3 linked regions of the Homo sapiens genome follow. The protein of the gene in region 1 purifies or fractionates together with the protein of each later gene. This does not show direct contact. Each region holds a gene or a part of one and is shown in the gene's direction. Other genes may lie near its edges.

The links. The genes of interacting proteins can lie anywhere in the genome.
Region 2: the proteins of PTPRK (region 1) and PLXNA2 purify together in Homo sapiens (affinity purification with mass spectrometry; 3 studies listed by BioGRID and IntAct, with this or other methods). This does not show direct contact.
Region 3: the proteins of PTPRK (region 1) and CTSF purify together in Homo sapiens (affinity purification with mass spectrometry; 3 studies listed by BioGRID and IntAct, with this or other methods). This does not show direct contact.

Annotation. Positions count from the first base shown.
Region 1 is NC_000006.12:127,967,295-127,972,130, reverse strand, and holds the end of PTPRK (receptor-type tyrosine-protein phosphatase kappa isoform b precursor), read left to right. Parts: intron 1-1,850; coding exon 1,851-1,904; 3' UTR 1,905-3,346; downstream 3,347-4,836. UniProt on the Homo sapiens protein: Regulation of processes involving cell contact and adhesion such as growth control, tumor invasion, and metastasis. Negative regulator of EGFR signaling pathway. Forms complexes with beta-catenin and gamma-catenin/plakoglobin.
Region 2 is NC_000001.11:208,241,313-208,249,805, reverse strand, and holds the start of PLXNA2 (plexin-A2 precursor), read left to right. Parts: upstream 1-5,421; 5' UTR 5,422-6,163; intron 6,164-8,493. UniProt on the Homo sapiens protein: Coreceptor for SEMA3A and SEMA6A. Necessary for signaling by SEMA6A and class 3 semaphorins and subsequent remodeling of the cytoskeleton. Plays a role in axon guidance, invasive growth and cell migration.
Region 3 is NC_000011.10:66,565,535-66,573,997, reverse strand, and holds the start of CTSF (cathepsin F precursor), read left to right. Parts: upstream 1-5,391; 5' UTR 5,392-5,511; coding exon 5,512-5,724; exon of another isoform or gene 5,725-5,794; coding exon of another isoform or gene 5,795-5,827; intron 5,828-5,915; coding exon 5,916-6,014; intron 6,015-6,335; coding exon 6,336-6,554; intron 6,555-6,676; coding exon 6,677-6,752; intron 6,753-7,593; coding exon 7,594-7,707; intron 7,708-7,830; coding exon 7,831-7,976; intron 7,977-8,070; coding exon 8,071-8,167; intron 8,168-8,246; coding exon 8,247-8,327; intron 8,328-8,463. UniProt on the Homo sapiens protein: Thiol protease which is believed to participate in intracellular degradation and turnover of proteins. Has also been implicated in tumor invasion and metastasis.

The DNA of each region.
Region 1 (4,836 bases):
GAGACAAAATCTGAAGACTTAGGTTTGTACTGTTTCACTTTTACAAGCGGTACCAGACTTCCACCCTTTCTACAGGTGTCCTCAAACTCCCTACACCACCTCATTTCCCTGGGTTGTTGCAGCTGTCTACACAAGATTACATTGGTTTTGATTGGGGTGCTGGCTATGGAGATGAGAAAGGGGGGATGAATCGGAGGGATTTTTGAGGGAGAACTCTCAGATCGTCTTAGCAACTAAATGAATAGTGGTTATGTCTCTAAACTTTGCGATTTGAAGATTTCTTGATGTAAACTCTGCCTCCATTTTTCAGGTCAAGTCTTAAAATCATCAGTGGGATCATTTCTGACTTCAGAATTCAACTTTTACCTTCAAATTTAACTGATTTCCCACCTTTTTTAATTAAAAAAAAAATCTATGGTTAAACTGTGCCATTCTGGGACCTTCCAAAAAGTTACTATTTTCCTTTACATTCATGTCCCGTGAATCCTGAACACCCCACCCTCTGATTTGTGTTTAATCAGTGTTGATGATTAGTTTAGTGAGCTGTGGAGTTGAGCTGAGGAGTTTGGTGAGGAGATTTAGAGTGAAGGCAATATTGCTGGAGACTGCTTAAAGAGACATAACTATTTCTAGGCACATTTTGGTTCCTTGAATGCACTCGCCACAGTGGTAGGTGAATTTGAATCATAACTACTTGGTGAATAGTGTTGGAATGATAAAGACCTCTTAAGGAAAGTTTTATTACCCTAGTTTATTGCTGGAGACACCTCGAACTTCTATTCCAAAATAATATGCATTTTAGACTGTTCTCCAGCCTGAATTTTACCCACTTGAATGAACTGAGTTGGGAATTTTTAAATGAATTGCATATTATAAGTAATAGTTTATGATATGGTCTCTGAATTTTTCTAAATTCTTATTATGGAGCAAGTCCATAGATGGGCTTAGAGGAAAGGCAGTTTTAACTCAAAAATTTTATTGCCAATATGTTGTCTTAAACATATAAAGGCAGCAGAAATACATTTTCAGGTATAAGTAGGCTCAAAATTTAAGGATCACTAACCATTCTTGAAAAATTTGCTTAAATACTCTGATGGACAAAAACAGTGTCAAAAATTAAGAACTTGAAATTGCATAAATGGCTGTTTAAAATGGCTGGCTTTTTTTTTCTCAAGGAAATCATCTGAAATATATGGAGAAAAACATTTGCAGTTTATCACTGTAGCATTATAAAATAGAGAAAAAAATAAAAGCAACTTAATAGTCAAACAATACATATATTTGATTTTTATGTGGTATTAAAAGATGTTAAATAACATGGAAAAAGAATTGTAACAATGTTAAATTTTAAAAGTTACATTTAAAATTATATTTTGAAATATACATAGTTATATTTATTCTAAGATAATTATTTCAACCATGCACAAAAAGAACTGAGGCAAACTAAGGTGATATTTTAACAATTTCTTCTGATGATAGAATTATAGCTCTTTTTCTCATTCTTTATGTTTGTTCAGAATGTGTATATTCTTTATATTTGTACAGAATTGTTCTGTAATGATCAAATATTACTATTATAAACAGATAAAAAATTATAGATATTTAAAAAATTGATAGAAAATATGCGGCAAAGATAAAATGTCTTTTTAAGATAAATTTCCTTTTTCTTAAATGGATCATTAGACTCAAGTATAAAATATGTATGCCTAGATATTAATCTCATATATAGAAAAAATAAATTGTAATCCTTGAGTAATCTAAATTGGTTGTCAAGTTTCATTTGGTAACTGTTATTCAACATTAGTCTCTTTCTTAAGTTTTCTCACTCTTTGTGTTTTGACATCTTTCAGGAGCAATACCGTTTCTGCTATGATGTAGCTTTGGAGTACCTGGAATCATCTTAGTTGGGTGAGACTCTTTAAAGTGCATCCATGAAGAAACCTGTCCATCTATTGAGCCAGCAGCTGTTGTACCTGTTACACTTGTGCAGAAAGATTTTAATGTGGGGGGTGGGAGACTTTTACATTTGAGAGGTAAAAGTATTTTTTTTATGAAGTTGTGTATCTTAATAAAAAGGACTGAATTAGTTTTTATTACTATATTAAAGCATCAACATTTCATGCCACATAAATTATATTTAATAAGAACCAGATTGAAATGAGAACGTATTGGTGTTTGTACAGTGAACATGCCACCTTTTTTCTCATGGTTTCAGTAGAGCAGCTACCACATGTTGCATGAGTTCATACTTTCTACGTGGCATTTTTCTCCCTTTCTAAAATGAAAGCTGATGAATCTTAAAAGGAAGAAGAAAAGAAAAGCTGTGCAAATTCATAGTAAAGTTCGTTTTTTATATGTTTCCAGTGTAGCAGATCTCTATATAAATATATAAATATATATAACTGGCTTATTTTCTTTTAATGTGCAATGATGGCTGGATCATTTAAAGTTCTTTTTAGAAAATAACATAAGCCAAAGACTCAAGTGTAAATATGTCTATATGGAGAAAGCACATTATATTTATTGGTTACTTACATTCCTTTTTTGATGGCTAAAATACTACCACCACACAATCATCTTTTTTTTCCTGAAGAAAGCTTTTTCTTTAGCTAAAATCAATTGTAAACGATTTTTGTAGATTATTTTTTGTATGTTTTAGTGTAAGTAGAAGATAAACTTTTTATTCATAAACCAGGAAGCAATGTTCTTTATAGTGATTCTCTTGTGTACATGCTTGTGAATTAAATTTGTGTAAAATCCCTTGGCAATTGGGTCTTTTAATATAGGACCAAATTAAAACATTTTGCTGAATATGTATAGTTTTTCACAATTTCATTAGGTAAATAATGGTTTGGTGATCATACATGAGAAATGTACACATTAAAAGGCCTTGCTGACAACTTGCACAATGTTGAACATAGCCTTTAAGCATCATTTAAATTTTAAAGGAATGGAGTTTTTCAGCCTGTGGCCCAGCACTGGTCAAGAAAACAAGATGGCAACATATATGCTTTCAGGGTCAAATTTGAGCAAACTGTAAACTGTCAGGGTGATAAAATGTTTCTCTTGATGTTTACATGCACAAGCTTTGCGTTCTGACTATAAAAAGTGTGAACAAATCAATGCCAGATTCCTGTTTTGCGCATTGTCATGGGATTCTTAAGTGAACCTTTCTAAATGTGGTCTTGTTCACATGCTCCACGTAGCTGTAACTTCACATCATCAGCTTGCAGTTTGTAATTGACTAAAGCATTCCAGTGTCCTCTTTCTAGATTGCCAGCTCATGACATGGTGCTTATAAAGATTTAATTAAAGTAAGAATGAAATAAAGTTTTTATAATTATAACAGTTATTGTTTGCACATCATTTTTTCCTCTTAATGTTTATGCATTCACCACTAAATGAGTAGCTTATTCCTATACTCGTTGATACAAGTAGGCCACAAAAACTCTATTTAAAGAGTAAAACTGATTTCCAACCTCTAGTTTCTTTTATTTTTATTTTCTTAATTTAATGCCAAAATGTCCAGTAGGTGGAGATGGAAAAGGCCAGGAGATTGACATCATTTTTTGTTTGTTGGTTTCTATATTTATCCATGTATGTAATACACATTTTCCATTTGTGTTTGTCACTATCCATTTATATAATACACATCTTACTTTTTTCTTATAACCAACATGACAAATGGTACTTATGATCCCTATTTTACAGATGATGAAATGGAAGCTAATGAGAAGGTACATGATTTGTCAACAGATTCATTCCTACTTAGCAGCTATGTCTTTACCACTAAACACATTGTTTCCCAAATGTCACAAAGATAGACAAAAAAATTTAGAATTTCATTTCTATTGTTCCTCATTAATCAATTTTCTCTTAAAGTATTATTATCATAATGGACATCTTCAATCTCCCATTTGCTATGTACTTTATTAGAAAATGCGTGACTTTTTAAAAAATTCAGATAAAGCAAACTTTTCTTAGGAAAGCTGATTTTCATTTAAACATGGAGGCATTTAACAAAAAAAAATCCACAAACTCGCCCAAGATTTTTTTTACCCGGTAATGTTTATTATGTTATCCTATAGAAGATTCTGTTTCACTGTGTGACACTGACTTCATTTCTGCTCATGACTGCACCACACACCAGCAAAGTTATCATGAGCACAACTGTCCACAAAGCTCAGAGGTCTGTGCAGCCTCTGTAATTCAAAGAACAAGAGTTCTCTTTCTTTGTAACAGGAAATTGAAATATCATGCTTGCTTTGTTTGGGCACCACAGAAGCCACTTGATCAGGAGACAATGGAAGAGGGGTTGCCTGTTGCTCTCAAAACTCATATTCAAAAGCTCATATCTTATACCCTTAAGGGCTCCCTAAGTAGTCTTGTGCATGACTATGTTCTCCGACACCCCCAGCCATGTCCCTCTGGGCGGATGTCCTGGTGCTGGCTGGGGGTGGGGTCCTCTTCCACTGGCACAGCTCTACATGCTTTTCATAGTTTAGGGCTTCCTATTCCTAATTTAGTTATTCCTTAAATGGCTGTCATGTCGTTGAATTTTACAGACCCCCTTTCTATAACTATCACTAAGGAGATGTTGGAAGTGTGTGGGCCAGAGACACACCAGCAACTGGGAATTTTTGAGTTTTAAAACCATTCTTGGAAATAAGTGTTATCTCTCTTAGAGTTGTCTCCTAGCCTTTTCTAATACTTAGGCTTTGGAGTCTGTATTAGTCAGGATTCTCTAGAGAGACAGAACTAATAGGATAAATATATAAAGGAGTTTATTAAGTGTTAACTTACATGATCACAAGGTCCCACAATAGGCTGTCTGCA
Region 2 (8,493 bases), on another chromosome or scaffold:
AGCAAATAAATGGCGCTGATTTTGTCCAGTCTTACCCCCCCCCCCCACCCCGAGAAAGCCCTGGCAGGCCCGCCCAGAAGACATTGAGCCCTCAGAAAGCCTTAGAACCCAACTGTAGTTCTGGCAGCAACTGTCCTCTGAACCAGGCTATGCAGCAAAGACAGGAGGTCAGTGACTCAGAACAGGCAGGGGATTCCTGGCCAGTGAGGGCTGCTGAGCAGGGGTGGACCCCAAAAGCACATTCACATAATACATCTCAGCCCACAGGGAATGGGACCATGCTAATTTCTATGCAATCACAGCGTGTTCTCCAAGGCACCTCAGCCGCCCCTCTCTTCTCTTGCTCCCTGGGAGGGTGTGGGTGTGTACGTGGGCTGCTTAGTAATGAGGACCAACTCCAGCCTGGGTGTGCTTTGTGATTCCATAGATGAAGGTTTGTGGACAGAATCTCTTTTTCTCTGCAGCATTTTTGAGTGGAAGAGTAGGAGAGAAGGAGGGACCCCGAGGTGATGGACAACAATGACCCCATAAGCAAAGGGATATTTCTGGTGAGCCCAGCTGTTTTTCCTAGAAAACCAACCAAGAGAAGAACTGCAGTTGTACAGTTGGGAAATAGGTTTGCCTCCGGATGGAACTTTCAGGTTTTAAGAGAACATTCCCATGGATTTGTATAATGCTTTCTGGCTTGTGAAGCTCTTTCATAGTCAGCATCTTGCAAGACATGAAATGCAAGGGACATTATTCCACTTTATAAAGGAGGAAACTGAGGCACCAAGAGATTTACCCAGGGATTATGTGACCAAATGATTAGTTTCTCCTTTGGGGGGATTCTTTTAGAAAAAATAAGAGAGGAAGGCCCTTTTCCTGACCCTTAGTGCTAGGAATAGAGCAAAAAAAAAAATAAGTCCTGAGCCTCAGCCTTCACCTTCCATGCCTGGAGCCCAGTTGTCCACACTCCCCTACCCCACCCCTCCTCTGAAGCCTTCTGACCTTGCAAATGCCAGAGCCTTGCAAACTGTTCCAGGGACCTATTTAAGTAGGTTTGGGACTGCAGTTGCCTGGGCTTCACAGAGAATATTCTTCTCCCAGAGCAACACACTAGATGGATGGAGGAGGGGAGGGAGGGTTAGGGAAAGAGGACGAGGTATACAGGGACATAAGCTCTGCTCGTGGGAGGTTTAGTGAGAAAGGAGCGAAATCCTGCCTTGTTTGATTTGGAGCCTTAACAGGCTTGCTACTGTTTAAAGTACACAGGAAAGTGGGATTTGTGAAGGGAGGAGAGGGGAGGGGAGGGGAGGGAAGGGTGACGTCTTTATGAATGGTACTGAGAACCCCGGAGCAGATGCCCTGTTCCTGTGTCCTGGGCTGCCAGCCCCGTTGCCTGGGCTGAGACCCACCACTCTGGCATCCCGCAGTCTCTCTCTTCCATTCACAGGACTTGGCCCACACACTCCAGGCTGGCCTGTCTGGACCAATCCCTTTGTTCCTAACAATGTAGGGGTTAAGGGGAGGCTGCTCTGCTGCTGGGGTTGCCTGACAGCATCTGCTGGATGAAGGTGAGGTACCTGGTAGGGAGACAGAAGGGACCACATTCCTGCCTGTCTATAGTGGCAAGCCTGGGCTCAGGGCAAGTGAAAGATGACATGCATCTTAGAGCAGAGACCAATCAACTTGGTGGTGGCATCAGTGGTCTCAGCTTTGGGAGCCAGGTACAAACCGGGCAACAGCCAGTGCACCATCCAAACATTGCCCTCTGACACTGGCAAGCAGGAGCACCCTTGGCTCCCAAGCACAGGTCCAGGCACACATCCTCCTGAGCCCACCTCCCAGCCGACTCAAGGCACCGTAAATATATGCATGCACACACTCTCAGGCAGCATTCCCATGCTAAACACTGATAGCTTGCCACCCCCCGCCTCTAAAGGGAACAGACTTGATGCTGAAAGCCTGCCAAAGTGTGGCTGGCTTCCAGCACCAAAAATACCTCCTGTGATCCGAGGGGCTACTGTACTGGCATCTATTTGTGGGGCTGGAGCTGCTGCTGTGACATAAAGGACTTCCCCTAGGGATGGGCTAGTTGCCCATTTGGGCCTGTGCTCCCCAAAGTCTAAGAGCTTGCTTTCCAGGGCCAAGGCCTGCTCCCAGCCTGGAAAATGCAGGTGGCAGCATCTTAGCCAAACCTGCCTTCCACAGGAGAAATATTCATTCTTCACAGGAAACATTCTGTGGCATTCCAGAATGTTGGTGCCCTGTCCTCTCCCACTTCTCTCATTCTCTTGCTTAAGTAACCCATCTAGTTACTTAGCTTGCTTCTTTGACAAGCAAAGAAGAGGCCTGGGGCCTGGAACAAGAATGCAGAAGTGACAAATGACTTTCAAGGTGAGGTTCCAGGAATATCTTGACTAGGGAAGGTAGGTAGGTTGGGGTGAGTGGAGAACCCTGTTGAGTGTGCTATGATTTTCCAATGATGAGGATTTGGCATAAGATAAACATTTCCCCATTCATTCATTTGTTCATTCATTTGATAAATATTTGTTAAATATCGACAGCCTGCTCACAAATATGTTGCACTACATCTATCCTTCCAGATGGAAATGAGGACGAACTACAAGGCCCTGACAGAGGACTGGTCAGTCCCAAGGGGCTGTGGGCCTGATATCAGATGGACAGAATGAGGAAGAATATAGTGAAGGGCAGAAACATACAAGAAAACCAGAAACCTCAGAAAGAGATAGATCTGAGGTTATAGAATCTGTAGGGTTATTGCCATGCTTTCTTTAAAAATATGTGCCAAAGCAGTAATTATGGACTGTATATAGTTCCATTAAAGGAAGAAATTTAGTAAATTTGCTCTTCATAAATATTTGCGTAATAAATGAATGAATACCCAGATCAAAGGGAGAAGGTTAACGAGCAGATGTAAAGACTAGAGGTTCAGGTATACCGCTGTTGCCTCAGAGGATGTCAAATCTAAATACGAACCATGAACCCAAGGTTTTGGTTTTTTTTTAAATTCTCAGAGCATGTTATGGTAATTAGATGTTTAGCTAATAAGATCCATATTTGTTCTAGCCTATTAGGACTAAATATAACAACAATCTTTCCATTTTGATGATACTATTACTTCTTCCAACACGCTTACATATATCTATTTTAATTCCCCCAGTTGTCTGGAGAGTGAAGACAGAAATTCCCATCTTACAGATGGACAAACTGTGGCCTAGAGAAGTTAGAGGTACTTCATCCACTGTACCTCCCAGTAGATCAAGTTAGCGCTCTTTCCATTGCTATGCTGACCACAGGCTCTTCCATAGTCTCACAGGACTCAGATCTTAGACCCTGTTCAGTGGCAATGTGGAATCTGGATGGCGTCGTGCCACCCTGTCAGCCACAATGTGTCCTCCCGCCTGTGTTCCCTCTTTCTCTCCCTTTATTCAGGAAAGAGAGGGGAGGTGTGGGGATAAAAGATGGGGTGAGTGGAAGAGTCTGTTTCATTTTATGCTTCCTTGCTCTTCATTCTAAGATTTATTTCTGGACCACAGGAGTGGAGGGTGGCATATGAGAAAATTATTTCAATTGTATCATAATCTTCCCAAGGTGTGATTAAATTGAGGCATAGGGAAGAGAGGTGACCTCTTCCAGAGTCAGACACCACTTGATTTAGAACCAGAGGGCCCTAATTTTCAGCTTGGAGCTTTATCAATTAGATATCTCCAATCCTACCACGGCTGGTCTTAGGTGTAGCTGGCCAAACTCCATGAACAAATGGAGGAAGTGTTCCAAAATCTTCTAGCATCTTCTTCAAATCATCTTTTTTAATAAATTGTGGTTTAGATTCAGTCTACCCAGAGATAAAACGATCGACTAGTCTGTCTGCATGGGGAGACAAGATCTACTTATAAAAATAAATAAATAATAACACAGGGTAAATATGATAATTTATTGGTGTGTTACCAACAATGAATGCTAAAGAAGTTTGAAGGAAAGAACAGGTATGGATCAGGCAACACAGCTTAGACAGATTCTTTGTGGTCCCACAGGACAAAACTAGCAGTAGCCAGTGAAAGTTACAGGAACACAAATTTCAGCTAATTACAATGAAGAACTTTTGAAGAATTCGCTGATTTCTGCAGATGTTGGAGTAAAGCCTAGATCCCCCAGTCCTGTGTTGAATGTGCGATTGTTCGAGATGACTGGTTAGTCTAGATTTCCTTTTCTTCTTCCTCTCTCTCTCTCTTTTCTCCGGCTCCCTTTCTTCATCCTTCCCTCCCTTCGTTTCTTCTGCCGCTACTGCTCTAAGAATTTGGTGCAATTGCTTTTAGGTATTCGCAGTGATTTTTGTTGTTTTTTAGATTTATACCACTGAGGACTGTGGCCACGAGAGGGCAGTAGAGGAAGCTTATCAGAATACTTGGACAGGAGTAAACTCGTGTGCGCTCTAATCGCGAGCAGGGACTACGCAGATCCTGCGAACTCGCTGGGGTCCAGCTTGCAGGCCGCTTCCGGAAAGCCGTGTCTAGAGGCTGCGGAGTTACTGAGACTGTGTGGCGAGGAATCAGTGGCCTTGAGGGCACCGAGACATTGTCATCCAGAATCCCGAAACCTCTCACCTTAGGTTATTAAAATAAGTTATCTTATTGCCACCCCTCTGATTACCCTGCCAGAAAGATTCTCTGAATTGGATATAGAAAGCTCTTCTCCCGTCCCCAATGCCCCCATGCAAGTCGGGACTTACCAGATGCCCAGGATCCCTATCAGGGCTGGAAGTTTGAGATTCAATTCAGAGCAAGGTTCATCTTCTCATTGCAATAATAATAATAACAACAACTTCAAGCCTTATTTGACAGCTTGTTGGCCTTTTTCTTTTTTTAATTTACAAGAAGAGGAAATTTGCTCCCACAAATTCCAAGACTCTAGTCTCAACCCTACCAGACAAGCCCCGTTCCTCCCCACTCACCCCTCACTCAAATTACAGATGAAGAGGGAGGTGTGCAGGATGTGTGCGGTGACAGGTGATGCGAATGGGGGGGATTCCCTGTCCCTACTGCCCTCACCCACTCTTCCTGTGTTCTGAGCTCCCCCCTAACCCCAACGCTAGACCTTCTATTCCCCCGGGGGCCAAGCCAGCTGGGCTCGCAAGGCCCGACTCGAATTCCCGGGCCCTGGCAGCATTTTCCTTGCCCCCTTGGCTACTTAAGGTGGCCGATGGGTCCGGGCTGAGCTGGGCGCAGGACAGGCAGCCGAGCGGCCTCCGGATGCCAAACCTGCTTCTCCTTTGTTGACAGCTTGCGGAGGAGGAAGTCCGCGCGGGCGGGGGAGGGGGCAGGGTGCTGGCGGTGGCGGGCGGTGCCAGCAGCGGGCGCGGCCCCAGCCCGGGCGGACGCGGCCGGCGGGGAGGGGGTTAACGCGCGCGGCCTCTATGATAATGAGCTGCATGGTGAAATAGGGAGGCCGGCGCTCAGGGCTCCTCCGCCGCCGCCGCCGCCGCCGCCGCCGCCGCCACCGCGGGAGCCAGAGCTGCCGGGAGGAGCGGCATCCGCGCCAGACTGGAGCGGGAGGGCGGCGGAGGGCAGTTGCTGGGAATTTTTCAGCCGAGAGGGCGAGCGATCCGGAGAGAGACCCCGAGAGCTTGGGAGCGGTAGGGCGTGCGAGCGCCGCAGCCAGCGGAGCAAACCTCGAAATAGATCTGGAAAGCCAGGCTCCCGGAGGAAATGGGACTGTGAACGAACCGGAGAGCAAGAAGGGAAGGAAGCGCCGGGATTGCTGATGTCAGAGGAGCCCGGAAAGTCGCGCTGGAAAAATCTGAAGACAGCCGGGGCTCTGCTTCTTCCTCAGGAGAGACACCGCCGGCCGCCCCCACACGCCCCCTCGGCGCCTCCGGGTGCCCCCTGAGAGCCGGCGACAGCGCCCAGCCGGGCTGCTGCGGGGCGACGGAGGACTGAGGGGCGCGCGGAGCGGAGACCGAGGAGCGACTTCAGGAATACAGATAAGTGTCTGGTGGCTTGACGTGGATTTTAATGAATTTGGACTCCATGTGGATTTGGTCGTCTCCCTGATTCCGAGCTGCGGGCAGGGAGAGGGGCCTCGCGCCGCCCTCAGCAGCCGGCGGCGGCCGAGGTAGACCGAGCGGGGACGGAAGGACAGACCGACGTCGCCGAGCTGGGTAAGCGGCGGCTGGGCCGGGCGCTCGGAGTCGGCAGCGCCCTCCGCCCTCTCCCCACAGGCGCGCACACCCGTGGCGGCTTCTCCCGCGCCCGCCTCTTTGGGGTCCCGGCCCCAGAAGACCCGGCTTGGCCGCGGCGGGCGAGTCCCCGCGTGGGCTCGGCCACTTTCGCGGGCTGGAGCGCGGCGTGCGCGCGATCGCAGGCTCACTGGAGCCGCTGCCTCCCGCCGAGGGCTTCCCGGCCGGCAGCCCGCCGGCTTCCCGAATGCGGGCTGAGGGCGGCAGCAGCGCTCCGCGGCGCGCCTCCACCGCGCACCTGCCGGCGCTCTGCGGCTTTGGGGAGCTCGGGGCGGCAAGGCTGTCCTGAGAGCTGGAGCCCAAAGAGGGCCTCGGTGGCACCAGCGAGACAGCCCAAAGCCACACTGGCCAGCGATCGATTTGGGGGCGTTCACTCCAGTGCCGGGGTCCCTGGTGGCCGCCGGCTCTCCCTTCCGATCGGGGACTGGAGATCAGGGGAATGGGAAAACATCATTTGCGCGGGTTCCATAAGGCTCAGGGAGAGATTCCTAGGCACTGAATGGGTCTAAGTGTTTCATCTCCCGGGGCTCCCTTTGCGGTGTATCGCCCAGCAGGGGTCCAGCCCCTTAGTTTGAGCACCACAGGAGTGCTGGGGGTTGAAATGGGAGTTTGCTTAGGGTCCCAGAGGCTCCTTATGAACCATTTGAGAATGTTTCCTTCCATGTGCTCTTTCTTGCCCCACCCCACAAGTGAGGTAGGGATCCTAGAAAATTCTAGCCCTTTTTATCCATCCCACAGGTAGTCTCTATAATGCCAATCATGGTCTAGATGCCCAGAGAGTCACCAGAAACTACCATTTTAGATCCCCGAAAAAAGTCCACCTGTTTGGAATGACCCTTGCCCTAGTGGGAGCTACCTACTCAAACTCAGCTCTGCTCAGGAGGGATAGAAATAATGGTGGGGAGGAAGTTGGATAAAAGATTTGGGGCTCTAGGTCAGTAAGGGTCTAGAAATGAGAGCCCCATGAAGTGGGCAATGGAAATCTGAACAGGTCCCCTGTAGGAATCTTAGAGTGACAGTGGCACACCAGTAGAAAGTGCACAAGGGACATGAAGGCAGCATCAGTTTGAGGGGACTGGGACTGCCAGTCATAGCTTGAGGCAGTCACTTGGGGGCCCATCAGTTTGGAAGAACCCACAGAAATTTGGGGGCACATTCATTTCCTTCCATTCACGCGCACAGTGGACAAGGCTTATGAGCGGCAGGCCAAGATGAGTATCTTGGCTGGCCTGGGCTGGAGGCTTTGAGAGCAGGAGTCAGGTTTAGCTCTCCCCTCTCCCCACACAATAGCAGTCTCCCTCCTTTGCTGGGCTTCTTTCCCAGATCTTGAAACTTCACTCTTCCCTCTGGGTTGGCTTTGGATTCTGGGGCCTTCTACTGATTGACAGAGCCCCAGGAAGAGATAACCTTGGCTGGAGGAATTCAGCTATTCCTAACTGAAATGCACAACTTTTATGCAATAACCCCAGAAAGCTCCCAGAGTTGCTTGCAGCCCTCTCCCCTCTGACCTCCAGGCAAGAAAAGAGAAGAATTCATTAACTTCCCTCTCTCTTCACGGAGCACCATTTGAACTAATTACCTGGGATCTCTCCTTGGTGGTGGCCTGGAGGCTGAAGGGGCAGTGAAGAGAAAGGGTAGGGAACCAAGGAAACAGTGGAATCTGTCATAGCGAGGTTGTTTTTCATTCCCCTTCTTCCACCTGGCATCACCACCAACCCCTCCTCATTCCAGAACTTGCCCCTGCTGCCACCAACCAGCATTACCTAAAGGAGCTATTTCCCTCCACTCCGCAGCCGATCGTCTTCAGGGACCTGCTGATAAAGGGAGGGCAATGCAGATTACCCTCTCTGCTCCCTCACTGTCCTCAGCAAATTGCATTAGGATGGGGGCAAACTGGCTTGCAAAGCAGTTAAATGGAAATGACATTTGGAGCGATGTGCAGGGAAGATGCTGAGGAGCAGCAGTGGTAAAGTACCAGGAGATCTCTATCCAGGGACCATGAGTCTGCCAAGGAAATCCCAGCTGGTCCTTCTTTTTGGCAGGGCATAAGGACAGGGGTCCCTCAAAGCCTGGAGCAGGACAGGGGGGCTGGCTAGCTTTTCAGCCCAAGTCTAAATGAAGAGTATGGCAGTGTCTTATGTCCATCGCCCAAAACCATGTCATTACAAGGTTGGTGGCCCCCCTTTCAGAGCTAGTCTGAATACCTATCCCTGTCTTCAGAGCACCAGGGAACATTCACCCTGCAACTCTCT
Region 3 (8,463 bases), on another chromosome or scaffold:
CATGGCTGTTTACTTCACCTGGGTGCACGCGGGCTGAGTCTGAAAAGAGAGTCAGAGAAGGGAGATAAGGGTGGGGCCGTTTTATAGGATTTGGGTAGATAAAGGAAAATTACAGTCAAAGGGGAGTTGTTCTCTGGCGGGCAGAGTGGGGGTTGCAAGATGCTCAGTGGGGGAGCTTTTTGAGCCAGGATGAGCCAGGAAAAGGACTTTCACAAGGTAATGTCATCAGTTAAGGCAAGGACTGGCCATTTTCACTTCTTTTGTGGTGGAATGTCATCAGTTAAGGCGGGGCAGGGCATATTCACTTCTTTTGTGATTCTTCAGTTATTTCAGGCCATCTGGGCGTATACGTGCAAATCACAGGGGATGTGATGGCTTGGCTTGGGCTCAGAGGCCTGACACAGACCTTTTTTTTTTTGAGACAGAGTCTTGCTCTGTCACCCAGGCTGGAGTGCAGTGGCACGATCTCAGCTCACTGCAAGCTCCGCCTTCTGGGTTCGTGCCATTCTCCTGCCTCAGCCTCCCGAGTAGGTGGGACTTCAGGTGCCCACCACCATGCCCAGCTAATTTTTTGTATTTTTAGTAGAGACGGGGTTTCACCTTGTTAGCCAGAATGGTCTCAATCTCCTGACCTTGTGATCCGCCCGCCTTGGCCTCCCAAAGTGCTGGGATTACAGGCATGAGCCACCCCGCCGGCGGACTGTAACATTATTATGCAGATGAAGCCTACAGGTAGCAAGCTTCAGAGATAATAGATTGTAAATGTTTCTTATCAAATTTAAAAAGATGCCAGAGGCCAGGCATGGTAGCTCATGCCTATAATTCCAGCACTTTGGGAGGCCGGAAAGCCGAAGTGGGTGGATCACCCGAGGTCAGGAGTTCAAAACCAGCCTGACCAACATGGTGAAACTCCATCTCTACTAAAAATACAAAAATTAGCTGGGTGTGCTGGCACATGCCTGTAATCCCAGCTACGAGGGAGGCTGAGGCAGGAACTACTAGGGAGACTGAGGCAGGAGAATCGCTTGAACCCAGGAGGCGGAGGTTGCAGTGAGCTGAGATGGCGCCATTGCACTCCAGCCTGGGCAACAAGAGTGAAACTCTGTCTCAAAAATAAATACATACGTACATACATACATACATATGTAAGATGCCAGATTCGGCTGGGCACAGTGGCTCCCACTTGTAATCCCAGCACTTTGGGAGGCTGAGGTAGGCAGATCACAGGGTTAGGAGTTTGAGACCAGCCTGGCCAACACAGTGAAACCCTGTCTTTACTGAAAATACAAAAAATTAGCCGGGCATGGTGGCAAGTGCCTGTAATCCCAGCTACTCAGGAGGCAGAGGCAGGACAATCGCTTGAACCCAGGAGGCGGAGGTTGCAGTAAGCTGAGATCACACAATTACACTCCAGCCTGGGTAACAGAGCAAGACTCTGTCTCAAAAAAAAAAAAAAAAAAAGCCAAATTCTTAGTGAAGTCTCTCCTGGATCAGGAAAAAGACCTAGAAATGGAAAGGGACTCTGGAGAATGTAGATTTTCCCCACAGGGACAGCTTTGCAGGGCCATTTCAAAGTATGTCAAATAAGTATATTTTAGGGTAAAATACATCAATATCTATCATGTGATACTAAAGTCAGGATAGTGTCTTTTTTTTTTGAGACAGAGTCTCACTCTGTCGCCCAAGCTGGAGTGCAGTGCTGCGATCCCAGCTTACTGCAACCTCCGCCTCCCAGATTCAAGCCTCAGCCTCCTGAATAGCTGGGGTTACAGGCACGCACCACCATGCCTCGCTAATTTTTGTATTTTATTTTATTTTATTTTTTTTTGTAGATGGAGTTTTGCTCTTGTCACCCAGGTTAGAGTGCAATGGCGCAATCTCGGCTCACTGTAACCTCCGCCTCCTGGGTTCAGGTGATTCTCCTGCCTCAGCCTCCTGAGTAGCTGGGACTACAGGCATGTACCACCATGACCCACTAATTTTTTTTTTTTTTTGAGATGGAGTCTCACTCTGTTGCTCAGGCTAGAGTGCAGTGGCGCAATCTCGGCTCACTGCAACCTTCCACGTCTTGGATTCAAGCAATTCTCCTGCCTCAGCCTCCTGAGTGTCTGGGATTACAGGCTTGTGCCACCACGCCCGGCCAATTTTTGTATTTTTATTAGAGACAGGGTTTCACCATGTTGGCCAGGCTGGTCTCGAACTCCTGACTTCAGGTGATCCGCCTGCCTTGGCCTCCCAAAGTGCTGGGATTACAGGCATGAGCCACCGCGCCCAGCCGAATTTGATGTCTTATTGCTACATTCTTGAATGTACTGCAAAAAAGTCTTAAGATCTCTGGCTTTTTTTTTTTTTTTTTTTTTGGAGACAGAGTCTTGCTCTGTCACCCAGGCTGGAGTGCAGTGGCGCAATCTCGGCTCATTGCAAGCTCCGCCTCCCAGGTTCACGCCATTCTCCTGCCTCAGCCTCCCGAGTAGCTGGGACTGCAGGCGCCTGCCACCACGCCCGGCTAATTTTTTGTATTTTTAGTAGAGATGGGGTTTTACCGTGTTAGCCAGGATGGTCTCCATCTCCTGGCCTCGTGATCCACCTGCCTCGGCCTCCCAAAGTGTTGGGATTACAGGCGTGAGCCACTGCGTCCGGCCCTTTTTTTTTGTTTTTTTTGAAACAGGGTCTTGCCCTGTCACTCACGCTGTAGTGCAGTGGCATAATTATGGTTCACTGCAACCTCAACCTCCTGTGATTAAGAGATCCTCTCACTTCAGACTCCCAAGTAGCTGAGACTATAGGCGCACACCGTTATGCCTGGCTAACGTTTGTATTTTCGTAGAAATGGGGTTTTGCCATGTTGCCCAGGCTGGTCTCAAACTCCTGGGTTCAAGTGATCTTCCCAACTCTGTCTCTCAAAGTGTTGGGATTATAGGCATGAGCCACCATGCCCAGCCTAAAATCTCTGTTGTAATGTTAATGCTGGTCAGTTGTGCCTCAATTCCAAAGGGAGGAGAGTATAATGAAACATGCCTAACTTCCACTTCCCATTATGGCCTGAACTATTATCATTGTTGAGGTTAACGTTGGAATGTCTTTGACTGGGAGGAAGGGTCCATTCAGATGGTTGGAGGGGATTAGAATTTTATTTTTAATTTACAGAGGGAAGAGCATAATCAAGGAAAGATTAGTATCTGCTGCAATCCCTCAGATCCTCTCCTCTCAGACCTCAGCTGGCAACTGGAAGCATTGAGATGGCTCCACTCTGGCTCCAGCACTAATGTCTGAGTAGCTGGAATGTCACTTTGTCTCTCTAGACCTCTGCTGCTGTAGCAATTCTGGTTTGAACTAGATGATCTTGTAATTCCCAGATGGGTTCTTCCTGCCTACTGCACAAACAAAATCAATTCAGAGACCATAGCATTGCAGAAAAGAACGAGTTTAACTGACACAAGACCTGCCATGCCACACAGGAGACAGGGTTATTACTCAATCAGTCTCACTGAAGGCTTGGAGGTCGGGGTTTTTCAAAGATAGTTTGGTAGGCAGGCGGCTAGGATATGGGTGCTACTGATTGCTTGGGAATGAAATCATAGTAGTGTGGAAAATGGCCCTCCTGCACTGAGTCTGCTTCTGGGTAGGGGTCACAGGACTGGTGGAGTCACACGTCAGTGTGGGGCCATTCCATAGTCACAAATGCAAAAGCCTGGAAGAGATAGCTCAAAAGATCAGTCTTACATTCCATGATAGTGATGTTAATTACAGGAGTAACTGGCAAAGTTGCAAATCTTGTGACTTCCAGAACAATGGCTGGTAATCCTTTAACTATGCCTACATCTTAGTAGAATTCAGGCCCCTCTCATCCTCCTAACTTGGTGGCCTTTCATTAGTTTTACAAGGGTGGTTTAGTTTTCAGGAAGGCGTATTCTAATTTAAAGTATAAGCTAAATTTATCCAAAAGTTACCTTGGCCCATGCCCAGGAATGAGTGAAGACAGCCAGCCTGTGAGGCTAGAAAGCAAGATGCAGTCAGCCATGTCAGATTTCTCTTACTGTCATAATTTTGCAAAGGCAGTTTCAATTTTTTTTTTTTTTTGAGATGGAGTCTCACTGTCTTACCAGGCTGGAGTGCAATGGTGCGCTCTCAGCTCACTGCAACCTCTGACTCCCTGGTTCAAGCGATTCTCCTGCCTCAGCCTCCTGAGTAGCTGGGATTACAGGCACGTGCCACCATGCCCAGCTAATTTTTTTGTATTTTTAGTAGAGACAGGGTTTCACCATGTTGTCCAGGATGGTCTCCATCTCCTGACCTCGTGATCCGCCCACCTTGGCCTCCCAAAGTGCTGGGATTACAGGCGTGAGCCACTGCGCCCGGCCTAAAAATATTTTTAGTAGTGACGGGGTTTCACCTCGTTGGCCAGACTGGTCTCGAACTCCTGAGCTCAGGTGATCTGCCCGCCTCGGCCTCCCAAAGTGCTGGGATTACAGGCGTGAGACACTGCACCCAGCCCATCTGTCGTTCTTCTCTCTAGACTGTGAGCTCCAAGAACGCAGCACTATTCCTGTAATGCATCTGTGCATGCTTTCCCTTGGTAGACCCTGGAACACAGCAGGTGAATGCTTCAAGGGACAGTCTCAACCCTGTGCACCCTGCCTTAGTGGCTACTGAATGCTTGCATGATTGCATTTGAACCTCACAACAGCCTGAGACGCTGCCAGCACTCAAAAAATTACCTGCCATCTCGCTGTTGAGAAGAGGGGCCTGAAAGAGGCGATCAAGCTGCAAACCCAGGCTCAGAAGCCAACTGCCTGGATTTAAGTTTAGCTCAATTCCTTACCAGATATTTGGCAAGCCACTTAATATTTCTCTCTCTCTCTTTTTTGAGACGGAGTTTTGCTCTTGTCGCCTGGGCTGGAGTGCAATGGCACGATCTGAGCTCACTGCAACCTCTGCCTCCTGGGTTCAAGTGATTCTCCTGGCTCAGCCTCCCAAGTAGCTGGGATTACAGGCGCCCACCACCACGCCCAGCTCTTTTTTGTATTTTTAGTAGACACAGGGTTTCACCACGTGTGCCAGACTGGTCTCAAACTCCTGACCTCAGGTGATCCACCCGCTTTGGCCTCCTAAAGTGCTGGGATTACAGGGCTGAGTCACAGAGCCCGGCCACGCCATTTAATCTCTCCAAGCCTCGTTTCCTCCACTGTACGATGGGGATAGCACCTACTTCAGAGATTGCTACGCCGAATAAAAGGAGCTGGCATATCATGCCTAACATATAACAAGCACGTGATAGAGGTCAGTGACTAGCTTTAGCCTCAGGCCAGCAGCCTCCCGCTCTCCCTACCCTGCGCGCCCCACGTGCCTCCTGTAAACAAGAGAACGCGCAGGCGCCGCAAACCAGCGCCCATTGGTCGGCGTGCCGTCGCCCCGCTGGAGGGAGGACTCAGGCCCCGCTGGCCGCGGGCTCGGTACCCGGTGGGTCGGTGGAGCGTCTGTTGGGTCCGGGCCGCCGGCTTCGCCCTCGCCATGGCGCCCTGGCTGCAGCTCCTGTCGCTGCTGGGGCTGCTCCCGGGCGCAGTGGCCGCCCCCGCCCAGCCCCGAGCCGCCAGCTTTCAGGCCTGGGGGCCGCCGTCCCCGGAGCTGCTGGCGCCCACCCGCTTCGCGCTGGAGATGTTCAACCGCGGCCGGGCTGCGGGGACGCGGGCCGTGCTGGGCCTTGTGCGCGGCCGCGTCCGCCGGGTGAGGACGCGCCGGGGGCGGGGGCGCCAGGCCCGGGTCCAAGGGATAGGAGCTTTGACCTAACATTGGGATGGGGCCTGCCCGCTGGACGAACCGATCTCTGGTGATGGGGAATGGGCAGCGCCGCACGGGCGGGGCCTTGGGCGCCGTCAAGGGCCGACTGTGCCCGCCTCACCTACTCCTCTCTCCAGGCGGGTCAGGGGTCGCTGTACTCCCTGGAGGCCACCCTGGAGGAGCCACCCTGCAACGACCCCATGGTGTGCCGGCTCCCCGTGTCCAAGAAAACCCTGGTGAGTGATGAGGCTCTTGGGGTTCCCCGCCCCGAGGCCGAGTAAAGCAGCAGTTGGATGATGACGGGTCAGGTCAAGACGCAGGGATCTGAGGTAGCTGCTGCCCCACCTTGAGCCACTTCCCAGGCCCCGAGGGCTGGAAACCAAGATGCTATGAAGGGGAGGATGCCCCGGTGCAGGCCGTGCCTCACTGTCCACTGTGATGGGGTGATTGCCTTAGGGGTGGCTCTCATCTGAGGAGCCTCCAGCTCCATCTTGGCCAGATCTTGCTCCCCAGATCCAGATCCAGGCCCCCAGAGCAGCTTCTTCCTCTCCCTCCAGCTCTGCAGCTTCCAAGTCCTGGATGAGCTCGGAAGACACGTGCTGCTGCGGAAGGACTGTGGCCCAGTGGACACCAAGGTTCCAGGTGCTGGGGAGCCCAAGTCAGCCTTCACTCAGGGCTCAGCCATGATTTCTTCTCTGTCCCAAAACCATCCAGACAACAGAAACGAGACTTTCAGCTCAGTCATTTCCCTGTTGAATGAGGATCCCCTGTCCCAGGTGAGGAGCCCTCAGCTTGAGGAGCCCTCAGCTTGAGGAGCCAGCCGCTGCCTCATCACCCTTCTCCCTTCCCTCTGGAGTGGGTTTCTCTGGTCAGCCTAAAGACTGGTCTGCCTATCCAGGACTTGCCTGTGAAGATGGCTTCAATCTTCAAGAACTTTGTCATTACCTATAACCGGACATATGAGTCAAAGGAAGGTGAGGACCCAGCCTTGGCTGTACCTGTTCCTATCAGAACAGGACTTTCCCCCCAACTTGGCACCTTGGTGTGTGGGAGGAGAAAGACAAGAGGCAGTGTACCTGTTCAAGGACCCCATAATTCCTGAGCTCTCCCTAAGCCTTCCCAGCCTGGCAGCCACCCTGAGTACCTGGCCCCTTCTCCTACCTTATCTTCCCGCTCAGAAGCCATGGGTCTTGGCCGGGCGTGGTGGCTCACCTCTGTAATCGCAGTACTTTGGGAGGCCGAGGTGGGCAGATTACCTGAGGTCAGGAGTTCAAGACCAGCCTGGCCAACATGGTGAAACCCCATCTCTACTAAAAAAAAAGTACAAAAATTAGCCAGGTGTGGTGGCGCACACCTGTATACCAGCTACTCGGGAGGCTGAGGCAGGAAAATCACTTGAACCTGGGAGGCGGAGGTTGCAGTGAGCAAAGATTGTGCCACTGCACTCCAGCATGGGTGACAAGCGAAAACTCTGTCTCAAAAAAAAAAAAAAGAAGCTCTGCATCTCCATCACTCTGGCAGGGTGGGATGGGGCAGAGGCTGGATTTTTTGTGCTGGAGAGTCCTTGACAACATGGCCTTTCCCCACCACCTCTTGTGGGTGGTGTCCTTTAGACCCCATTTACTGCTTTTGCACCTGGGAAGTCATCACTTCAGTTTGGCCCTAAAAGTTGATCAGACCTCCCACTCCATCACTTGCATGTCTGGCCCCCACCCCTACCTGCTCCCCGGGGAAACCCCTGCCTGCTAGCCCCAATTGCCCTTCCTTTTATCTGCCTGGGGTCGAACCCCTCCTCTTCTGCTCCTTGGTCCTCAGAAGCCCGGTGGCGCCTGTCCGTCTTTGTCAATAACATGGTGCGAGCACAGAAGATCCAGGCCCTGGACCGTGGCACAGCTCAGTATGGAGTCACCAAGTTCAGTGATCTCACAGGTAGGGATAGTGGCCACAGTCCTCATGGATCCAGGAAGAGACAGGACCTTGCTCGCAAGGCCTCTGGTCAGGTCTGGCTTAGAACACTCTTCCTCCCCATGCCCTGCCCACCTTTGCCCGCAGAGGAGGAGTTCCGCACTATCTACCTGAATACTCTCCTGAGGAAAGAGCCTGGCAACAAGATGAAGCAAGCCAAGTCTGTGGGTGACCTCGCCCCACCTGAATGGGACTGGAGGAGTAAGGGGGCTGTCACAAAAGTCAAAGACCAGGTTGGACCCCTGGAAGTGAGGGTGGGACATGGGCACTGCACTGGGGCTGACGAAGGGGCCCGGCTCTGACTCCAACTCCACCCATCTCTTGTAGGGCATGTGTGGCTCCTGCTGGGCCTTCTCAGTCACAGGCAATGTGGAGGGCCAGTGGTTTCTCAACCAGGGGACCCTGCTCTCCCTCTCTGAACAGGGTGAGCATCTCGCTCTACTCCTCTGTCCCCAGCCTAGCCCCTCAGGAGGGCTTCTTGGGACCAGCCTTCTGTCTCCTAGAGCTCTTGGACTGTGACAAGATGGACAAGGCCTGCATGGGCGGCTTGCCCTCCAATGCCTACTCGGCCATAAAGAATTTGGGTATGCATTAATGGGGTCAGGAGGGGCAACCGGAGCCACTTCTCCCTGTACAAGAAGTTACTTCATAATGGGGGGGAGACATGAGCATGAGAGTTACACAGAACTGGGTCCAGGTCTTAATGCTGACCCAGCCAGG